2 separate regions of the Homo sapiens genome follow, and region 2 is reported to be linked to region 1. Evidence: microRNA targets listed by miRTarBase, many of them from high-throughput screens and not tested one by one. Region 1 holds a microRNA gene; the other region holds the end of a gene's coding sequence.
What was found. Region 1 holds the annotated microRNA hsa-miR-4298 (CUGGGACAGGAGGAGGAGGCAG, at 2,543-2,564, opposite strand). A microRNA usually pairs through its seed, bases 2 to 8, with sites in the 3' UTR of a target mRNA and lowers its output. Matches are read on the target gene's strand: a 7mer-m8 pairs with bases 2 to 8, a 7mer-A1 pairs with bases 2 to 7 and ends in A, and an 8mer does both.

Region 2: the mRNA of FBXW7 is a reported target of hsa-miR-4298. Seed matches in the 3' UTR shown: 8mer at 3,937-3,944.

Annotation. Positions count from the first base shown.
Region 1 is chr11:1,856,963-1,862,037 of GRCh38, forward strand. It overlaps MIR4298 (microRNA 4298), which reads right to left and starts at 2,574; the gene lies at 2,502-2,574. The region is part of intron 1 of LSP1 (lymphocyte specific protein 1); the gene reads left to right.
Region 2 is chr4:152,318,193-152,323,267 of GRCh38, forward strand. It overlaps FBXW7 (F-box and WD repeat domain containing 7), which reads right to left. Exons shown (of 14, transcript NM_001349798.2): 14 at 2,352-4,957. The coding sequence ends at 4,689. Among named protein-coding and RNA genes, the nearest start is that of FBXW7-AS1, 17 kb to the right of the region's middle.

The DNA of each region.
Region 1 (5,075 bases):
AGGATTGAGGGCTAAGCCCTGGGGCTCCCTCCCTACACCTTCCTGTGGTCAAGACCTGATGTCTGGACCCAGGATCCCTGGGGAGGTCCCCTTCCTCCTGCCCTGGGTAAGGGGTCTGAGGCATCTGGAAGTTTCCCAGGGAAGCAGAAGGATGTCTTCTTCCTCGTGGGCTGGCAGGCGCTGCTGTCCACCGACACCCAGCTGGGCTGGTCGCACAAGTGGGAGCATCACAGGCCCCACCCCCGCTGATTCTGGAAGCCAGAATCCTTTCTTCCTGCGCCCCCTTCCTGGTTCCCTCGTGTCTCCTAAAACAATCCTGGAGCCACACAAGGGCAGTGCCAGGAGGGTCTGGGGTCCAGCTGGGACAGGCCCTGGCCGGTGACACCCTGGGGTGGCAGGATGGTGGGCCTCTGCTCCGCTACCCTACGGGCCAGCCTGTCTCCACCTCAGTTCCCTGAGAACGTGCCAGAGGGATGGGTGAGCCCTAGAGAAGAGGAGGGTGTTGGCAGTGGAAAGGGCCCAGTGGTCTCCCGCTCTGAGTCCTCAGCCTGGTGAGGGGTGGGGGCGTGAGCTCTGCCTTGCAGTCCCAGCCCCTGAGATCCCACTGCTGGGGCGGCGGGAGGGGGATGGGCTGCAAGGCCCCAGGGCTGGCCTTGCTTCGGCTGCTATAGGCCCTCGGAGTGCTTTCTGGATGAGTAAGCCGCACCCCTCTGAAGCCTCAGTTTCCCCATCTGCACACTCAGAATGTAGCCACTCAGACCAAGCGTTCACTCCATGCCAGTCTTTGCCAAGCTATTTATTTATTTATTTGAGACAGAGTCTCGCTCTGTTGCCCAGACTGTAGTGCAGTGACACAATCTCGGCTCACTGGAACCTCCGCCCTCCAGGTTCAAGAGATTCTCCCACCTCAGCCTCCTGAGTAGCTGGGATTACAGGCACCTGCCACTGCCCCCGGCTAATTTTTGTATTTTTAGTAGAGAAGAGGCTTTCACCATGTTGGCCAGGCTGGTCTTGAACTCCTGACCTCAGGTGATCCACCCGCCCCAGCCTCCCAAAGTCCTGGGATTACAAGCATGAACCACCGCGCCCTGCCTTTGCCAAGCTTTTTAAACCAAGGCTCTTGTTTCATCCCCCGGAGCTGTGAGGCAGGTCCCTGGAGCCTCCCATTTCACAGACGGAAACCGAGGCTCACAGGGGCCAAGTGCATTGTCCAAGGGCTGCTCCCTGCCTGGGGAGGGGCCTGAGTCCTTGCCCCTGTGGGGTTCGGGTGCTGAGGGCCCACAAGACCTGCGGGCACCAGGAGGGAGCTGGGCTGGGCTGCCCTTCCCGGGGTCTCTCTGACCCCACACCACACACCAGCCACTCTGGACTCAAAGGCTCCCAAGAGCACCAGAGCACTGCTCATGGCCCAAGCTCAGCAAGCACTTAAAGGGACCGTCCCGAAAAGCGGAACTGGGACCGGGCGCTGCAGGACCAGCAAGGTCCTCCACTTCCCTCCAGCCCAGCCCCGCCCAAATCCCAGCCCTCAGCATCTTTTTGGGGGCCACTAAAGACCTTCTGGGAGATGGCAGCCCAGGACCATAAGGCAATCGAAGAGGGCTTTCCACATGCGCTGAGGCAGACAGAACCAGGCCCTGGCTGTGGACGAGGCTGTATTGATACTTAGAAGAGAGGGAAGCGAGCGGGCTGGAGAGGCTCGGCCAGGGGGCAGCCCAGCAGGGCCCCTTCCCCAGGGTTAGACTCTCTACAGCCGGCCCAGCCCCCATCCCCTCCCCAACATCTAGGGACCTGAAAAGAGGTTGGAGGGGCTGCATGGGGGTGGGGTTGATAGGAGATTAGGGGATTGAGAAAGCCAGGCCTCCTAGCCGTGTCCCACCCAGCACGGCCCCACCAGTGCCAGACACAGGCAGACAAGGGAGGAGGGAGATGCTGAGCAGGGGTGGCAGGAGGAAAGCCCCTGGCCCTTTCTTGGGGCCAGGCAAGTCCTATCCTAACTCCATCTGCTAACTGCCTCCAAGCTGCTTGTGGGTTGTCGGGGAAGGGAGTTTGTGGCAGGGAGGGCCTCTGAGTCCCCTGTATCCCCCGGCAGGAGGAGGCAGGCACATGGGCCCCTGACCTCAGTGCTTGGAGCAGGGCCGCTCTGGTGGGGCATTTGTAGGTCACAGCATGAAGGGTTCCAGCATACTTCCTGGGTTCCCAGTTTCCCTGGGAGCAGTGGTATAGACGCAGGGGCCTCTACACACACCACACGCTCAGGGAGAGTGGCTGAGGTGTCCAGGATACTCTGTCCACTGGGGCAGGGGGTGGCTTCTAAGCCCAGTACCCTTCCCAGAGTCCCCAGTCTCCAGCTGCTCATGGGCTGCAGATGAGGATTCAAGGTTATGCAGGGGTCACTCTCCTGCTCCATCCCTGGCAGGTGGGACCTCACCTACTGCTTCTTTCTGCTCCAGAGAAGAGCACGTCCCCCTCATCTCAAAAGTGCCTGTGCTCCTCCTTCCTGAGTGGAACCTACACTTTTGACAGTTTGGTTTCTGAGGCAAGGCTGCCTCCTCCTCCTGTCCCAGGTACCTCCCCTCAGAAAAGCAATGGGACTTGGGATAGAAGGATCTAGCCAATTCGTTCCAGATGAATCTAGAAATAATCCTTTAGCCTTTCTCTTAGACCCAGTCCCAACCAAAATCTGAGCTTCATCACCACCACCCAGCACCCACCATTCACCACCCAGCCTCCAGCCCCCAGCCCCCAGCCCCCAGCCCCCAGCACCCATGACCCACCACCCTGCCCCCTACCCGTGGCTCTGGCCCATTCTCCTGCTGTCAGCAGTGCCTGCTTGAACAGAGGGCCACACTGAACAGATGCATGCTGCAAGCATTTGGAGGCTGCCTCCTCTTTAAATCACAGACATTTATCCACCAGGGATCACTCGGGAGCCAATGAGGCCACCACCCTGACCTCCCCTGTCCCCATGGGCTCTCTCAGTGCTCAAAGCACCTTTCACTGGGATGCTGCTCTGTGAACATACATTCGCAGGTATGTGTCGGGGATGATGAGAATGTGTCAATATGAAGACAGATCCCTGCCCCTGTAGCCCCTGCTTAGGCTCTATTGAGGTGTTCAGCCTCCTGGGCCATGGTGGTCTGCTTTATCCTTGGGCCATGAGCTTATGAACCATGTCTTAGTTGCATAAGAAAGGAAAAATAAAGATTAGAAAAGAATCAATTATGGAGAACAGTATGAATGAATGGAAAGATGAATGAAGAATGATAGGAAGTAGGAACAAATGGATGGATGGATGGATGGATAATTGAATGATGGATGGATGGATAATTGAATGATGGATGGATGGGTGGATGGATGGAGGGATGAGTGGATGGATAGGTGCATGGATCGATGGACAGGTGGGTGAATGGATGGGCAGATGGATGGGGTGGATGAATGAATGGGTTGGATGGACTCATGTATAAATAGAGTATAACTCATGCATAAATAGAAAGAATTATTTAGTAATTGATGAATGGATGAACAAATGAGCAGATGAACAAAAAATAGATGGATGGACAGAAGAACATCTGTATGTATATATGGATGTTTGGATGAAAGAACGAATGGATGGGTGGATAGATAAATGCAGATGTGATATTTAGAATATTTAACAAAGCATGTGGTACAAATATGAATCTACTGGAATGGGTGCTGATTATATATATTCCTATATTGAACTGTGTTGTACCTGTGCATATTGGCTGATCATCAGCCCAACAGCTAAATGAGCAAATGTACCAAAACAAAAGATGAGTGGATTTATGGATGAATGGATGATGGATGAATGGGTGTATAAATGGGTAAATGAATGTATTGATGGAAGGACACATGAGATGGAATTATGTATGGGTGGATGATTGGATGGCTGGAATATGGACATATAAATGATTGGAAAGATTAATAGAAGGATGTCAGGAGAAGTAGACATATGGATGGATATGGATAATAGATGAATAGATGGATACGTGGGTGGATATAACAAGAGATGAGTAGAAAGATAGATAGATAATGAATCAATAGACAATTGAATCCGTGCTGAGTAAACTATTAGAAAGACGGATGTGTGAGTAGACACTACTAAATCAGGAATTTTGCACTCTCTTCCAGGAACACTTCCTCCCATTTCTCTCATCTCTTTTCAAATAAGAAAAGAATTACTTCTTTCCATGAGGCTTTCATATATAAAGACCCAAGGAAAGAATTACTTATTTCCATGAGGCTATCATACGTAAAATATCAATCCCCTCCAGAACTCCATATGCCTTTACCCTGATTTATATTTTCTGTCATATTTTCCATCATCTGACCTTTATTTATTTATGTGTTTGTTCCCACACTTGAAACATGATCATCATAAGAGCAGGGACTTTGTTAATGCTGAATCCCCAGCACCTTCAAAGTGTCTGAATTCAGTACAGATTTATTGAATAAATATATGGAAGGATGGAGAGACAGATGGATAGACAGATGGATGAATGAATGGATGGATGGATAGATGGGTGGATGGATGGATGGGTGGATGGATAGATGCATGGATGAATGGATGGATAGATGGATAATGGATAGATAAATAGATGAATGGTTGGATGGATGGATGAATGGATGGGTAAATGGATGGATGGATAGGTGAATAGATGGATAAGTGAATGGATGGATGGATGGATAGATGGGTGGATGGGTGGATGGGTGGGTGGATGGATGGATGGATGGATGGATGGATGGATGGATGGATGGATTGGTGGATGAGTGGATGAGTGGATGGGTGGATGGATGGATGGGTGGATGGATAGATGGATGGATGAATAGATGGATGGGTGAATGGATGGATGGATGGATGGATTGATGAGTGGATGGATGGATGGGTGGATGGATAGATGGATGAATAGATGGATGGGTGAACGGATGGATGGATGGATGGATGGATGGATTGATGAGTGGATGGATGGGTGGATGGATAGATGGATGGATGAATAGATGGATGGGTGAATGGATGGGTGGATGGATGGATGAGTGGATGGATGGATGGATGAATG
Region 2 (5,075 bases), not on the chromosome of region 1:
ATGTAATGTGAATCTATTTCTGCTATGCAAAGCAACGGAGCTTCATGTTTCTGGTTTCAACATGGAATAGAGGGAGTTACAGGGGCAAGGACAGTGGTGAGTAGGCGCCTCTGAGATGTCTTCTCTCCTTCACCTCCGTACCTTTGTTTCACAGTGTGCAACGTGTATCTCAGGGAGAAGTGTACAGAAAACCAGGGCTCAGCTGGGTCTGGGGAAGCTGCCCTTGATCCCCATTTCACTTTAGGGAAGAGAAAAGCAAAGAGGTCTTTTGTAGCCTCTAATCAATTCAGGGAAATGGAAGAGTTTACAACAGACTAGCTCAAAGCTGGTAGAGAAAATGGCTTAAAGCAGTTAATACAAATAACTAAATGTCAATTACTTTTCTGAAATGAAACAAGGCTGGTTGAAACATTTACTTACCATTTGGTAGGCATTAGCTTTTGCAACCTAATGAAATAGCTGTGGTAATTGAATCTCAATAAGGGGGTTTCAAAGTGTCAAAATTATAAACAATTCTAATATAAAATAATGAGATAATCAACTCTGCTCAGTTCAACAAGTATACTAAGTACCTGCTACTGGCTTTTATGGGTTACTTTTGTGTCCTAATTTCAGCCTTAGTTTCAGGCAATGTTTGATATTTGGGAACTTGTAACATCTAAATATGAAGTGTGCCTATATCTGTTATGAAGATTTTAAAATGTACAGTTACATGAGGTGGTAAAGTTTTTCATTAAAAAGGCCACAAAATGGAGTTTTCTTAGTGACCTTTTTACAACAATTATACTTTGATTCCTGTAGAAGGATGCTAACATTTTCCCTTCAAGCAAAGATTTATTGTAATAAAGATTATTCATTTATTCATAAAATGATGTTTAATGAACACCTAAACACAGTCATCCCTCCATTATTTGTGGGTTCTGCATCCACAGATCTAACCAAACGAGAATCAAAAATATTTGAAAAGGGTGGCTATGTCTGTATCGAACATGTACAGACTTTTTCCCTTGTCATGATTCCCTAAACAATACAGTATAATAACTATTTACATAGCATTTACATTGTCTTAGGTATTATAAGTAATCTAGGTATGATTTAAAGCATACGGGAGGGCTTGTATATGTTACATGCAAATACTATGCCATTTTATATCAGTGACTTGAGCATCCATGAATTTTGATATCCATGGGGGTGAGGTTGGGGAGATCCTAAAACCAATCCCGCCCAAATACTGAAGGATGACTGTATATACAAAACCACTGTTAGGTGCTCAATATCAGTCTGTCTCACAAGGTTTCTGTAAAACTCAAATGAGAATCTAGATGGCTCCACGTAAAAGAATGGACTGCTGTGTGTGTGTGTGCACACGTGTGTATGTGTATGCTATTTTTATTACATAATCTGAGTAACAAATACATTCAATTCTCTAATATAGAAAGTTATCTGGGTCTATTTACTTAAAATTTTTAATAGAAGCTACCATTTACTGAGCTCTAAATGCCATCGGTATGCAATGTGCTTTACGTTTCACCTAATCTTTATAATAACCTTAGGAGATGGGTATCCTCTACATCTTAAATGAGGAAACACGAGGTCAAGAAACATGATAAAGGTCCCAGTAACTAGACCATACTAGAACTGAGATGAATTCAGGGCTATTTGTCTGCAAAGCCTGTGAACTCATTCTATTCTCTAAAGTTCTAAAAATGGATGTTTCTCTTCAATTATATTCTAGTTAAGCCTCATTTATATGCTCTTATGAAAAATCAAGCAGTTTCAAGAACTATCAAATAGAATTACAACTTTTTCTTGACAATTCACAGTCATCAATGTGAACAGTAGTCACGGTTTGGGCAGTAACGTGGTTTACTCTAAAGACCCTGCACTTCACGGCCTAGTAGGATTTTTGCCTTGCATTCAACCAGGTAGTTTTTTGTTTTTTTCCTTTACCCTGTCACTTTTCCTTGCTATTTTTGTGTCTGTAATTTGCTGTGGACTAATAAACCAAATAACCAAATGTACAGGAATGGTATCTAAAGCAATGGTTCTGAAACTTTAGTATCCACAACTCACCTGGTGAGCTAGTTTAAATGCAGGTTCTTGGGTCACACTCCCAGGTGTTCTGATTTAGTAGCTTTGGGAGAATGAGGCCCAGGATTTGCCCTATGAGTAAAGAACACATACTTTATGACTATGAGAAAAAGGGGAGTCCATTTTCAGTAGCTTTTATATTTTCATCTACGGCCTGGTTAGTTGAGATTACTGGATGTGTGTATATATATATGTGTGTGTATATATATATATATATATATATATCTCCTGCTATTTGAGATACTAAATATATTTAGAACTAGTTTCAAAAACAACTTTATTTTTTCCCCTTACATCATAAAATTTAGATTTTATAAAATTTAGATTTGTTGAACAAAACGGCTACAGAACAGTCAGAAAGTACCAGAAAAATGGCTTATTTCCCTCTCAAACCTTGCTTTAGTCTGTCAAACTTTCTTAAAGAGCAGCATGTATTTAGTCTTTGGAAATATGGGTTTGAGTTCTGGCATTCCGCTAGTTCTATGATTTGACAAATTGCCTAACCAGTCTCAGCTGCAGATTTTTGCTCGTCTTTAAGATGGGAGATAATAGTGCCTACTTCTCAGGGATAGTGGGAGCTTAAGAGAGAATGAACAGAAAGTATCGAGGGTAAGCACTTAATATGTGGTCAAAATTTCAAAATGAATTTGTTATTTATAAGGCTTCTAGTTGTAATTATCACAAAAGTTTTGTGGATTCTTTGAGGGAACCAGATTTCATATTTATACACCCCAATGCAATCTACAGAGATGAGCACAGTGGAGTGTCCTCCTTCATAGTCTAGGAGAGAAATAAAATTTGCAGTTGCAGCACATTATCCTTACTTTCGCGGTATAAAACAGGCTTGAAGTATTGATTTCTATGTCACACAGCAGGATGCAAAGAAACCAAGATTTTGCTTATTTAAATATTATAGACAAATCCTAAATACTTATAATGAAGGATTATTACTTCAGTGGAAGAAACAGGCATACTAACATGAAAAAACACATTTTATTGCACTTAAGTTATAAGAAAATAAAATTTCTAAGTGAATCAAACCATAGACACAATCCCTTTAAAGGTTGTTTTCCTCCATCATGTCAGGTTGTTACATAACTAAAATTAACCAACTTGAATCTGATTGTTTTAAATCAGACTATAAATAAAACAAACAAAAAAATAAACAGAAGGAGGAAAAAAGATCGCCTAGGATACAGTGTTAAACCACTTTCACAGTTCAGCTTGAGTTGTGGCTCTTGGAGAATGAGGCAAACCATTTGACTGTTTCATTCATTTTGTTTGTTTGCATGTGACGCCTTTACTACAAAAACTGAATAGTTTCTGCTTTGTCAGTTACTCAGAGCAATAAAACTGTAACAGTTGTTTTCCCAAATACTGTAAAACACTAAGACTGACCAGCAACTTTATTTTAATTTTGTGTTTTATATATTTTTAAAATATTTTGTCAGTTTTACGATGTACGTTCATCCATTCACCACAGCCCTCAAAAAGAAAAGTTTCTCCACAGAACAGGCAAGTAATAGCTCTGTTCCAAGGAATGTGTTTTAATTTTTGCCCAGATAAAAGAAAATAAGCTTTGCACACACTCTCAATTCTTTACTTGCAGGCAAACTTCACTCTTTATTATCTGAAACTCTTCCATTCTCAGCCTCTTAGAGGCACAGATGGCTCAAGTTTCAGTGGCAAAAAGTCTTTTTTCCATAACCAAACTAGAGCAAATTTGGAATTCAGTCTGGGACTAAAACGTCACAGCAGAAAAAAAATAAAAAAAAATAATTTGCTTTTTTCTTTCTTTCATTTAGCAGCATAAATAAGTTTGGCCACTGGGAGTACAGTACAGGGTTGGGACAACAATCCCATATTTGAAGACCTACTTCTAGCACCAGCATCAAGAATTAAATCCATCTCAGGACTCACAGAACCCAGGACAACTTGCCACCTTTGAGCAACATATGCATTGAAGAATGTATATGGAAGCAACAGTAAATAGATTAACAGAGGCTAATACTGTGATTGATTGACATTGGCAATGGTTGGCAAAAAAAAAAAAAAAAAAGCTTTTCATGATAACTGTACAAAAACAATTCACAGTAATTTTTTTAAGCTTTTCCACTCCAGAAAAATGACTTTTTGTTGCAGATGCTCTCTAATTAGAAAGTCAACCAGTACTTGTTTTGATATTATTGCAGTTCCTTTCTAGGTGTCTAGCTGTCAGTGGTAAAAGAACAGGCTAGCAGAATCTGTAATGATGTTTCAGCATTAACACTGCCCAATGACCACTGGAGAAGAAAATAAAGAAATAATTGCACCTGGTTTGATTTAGAAAGTCTCATTTTGCAAAGCTGCCCTCAGTCAAAAGTGAAGCCTTTTATGTGATGAGACAGCAGACGCCTCTCTTGTCAGTTATGGTTTGTCATCTCTTCTTCTTTTCCTTCTTAGTCTGTAGGTCTTTTCAATCTGTTGCCCCAAGCCAACATCCTGCACCACTGAGAACAAGGGATTTTTTTCTTTTTCTTTTCTTTTTTTCTTTTTGCAGGGGGAAGGGCAGGGAGTATATCGTCTACACAATTGGACAAATTCATCTTTTCTGCTCTTCACTTCATGTCCACATCAAAGTCCAGCACCAGCAGCTTGGTTTCTTCAGTCCCATTCCGACTCCCAACTGCACACACCAGCTTTGTGTTTGAGGCTCTGATCCGCCACACAACTCCCCCACTCCCCCCACTCTCCAATGTGACTAGGTTTCGAATAAATTCACCCGTTTTCAAGTCCCATAGTTTTACAGTTCCATCATCTGAGCTGGTAATTACAAAGTTCTTGTTGAACTGTAAACAGGTCACAGCACTCTGATGCTTGTTGGGACCTAGACAAAAACCAAAAGAATTTAATTACTGGTTAGAAATAATGGCTATGAGTTAGTTACATTATAATTTGTAGACTTCTACTTTAGAACATACAATAAATGCAACATTTGAAATGAT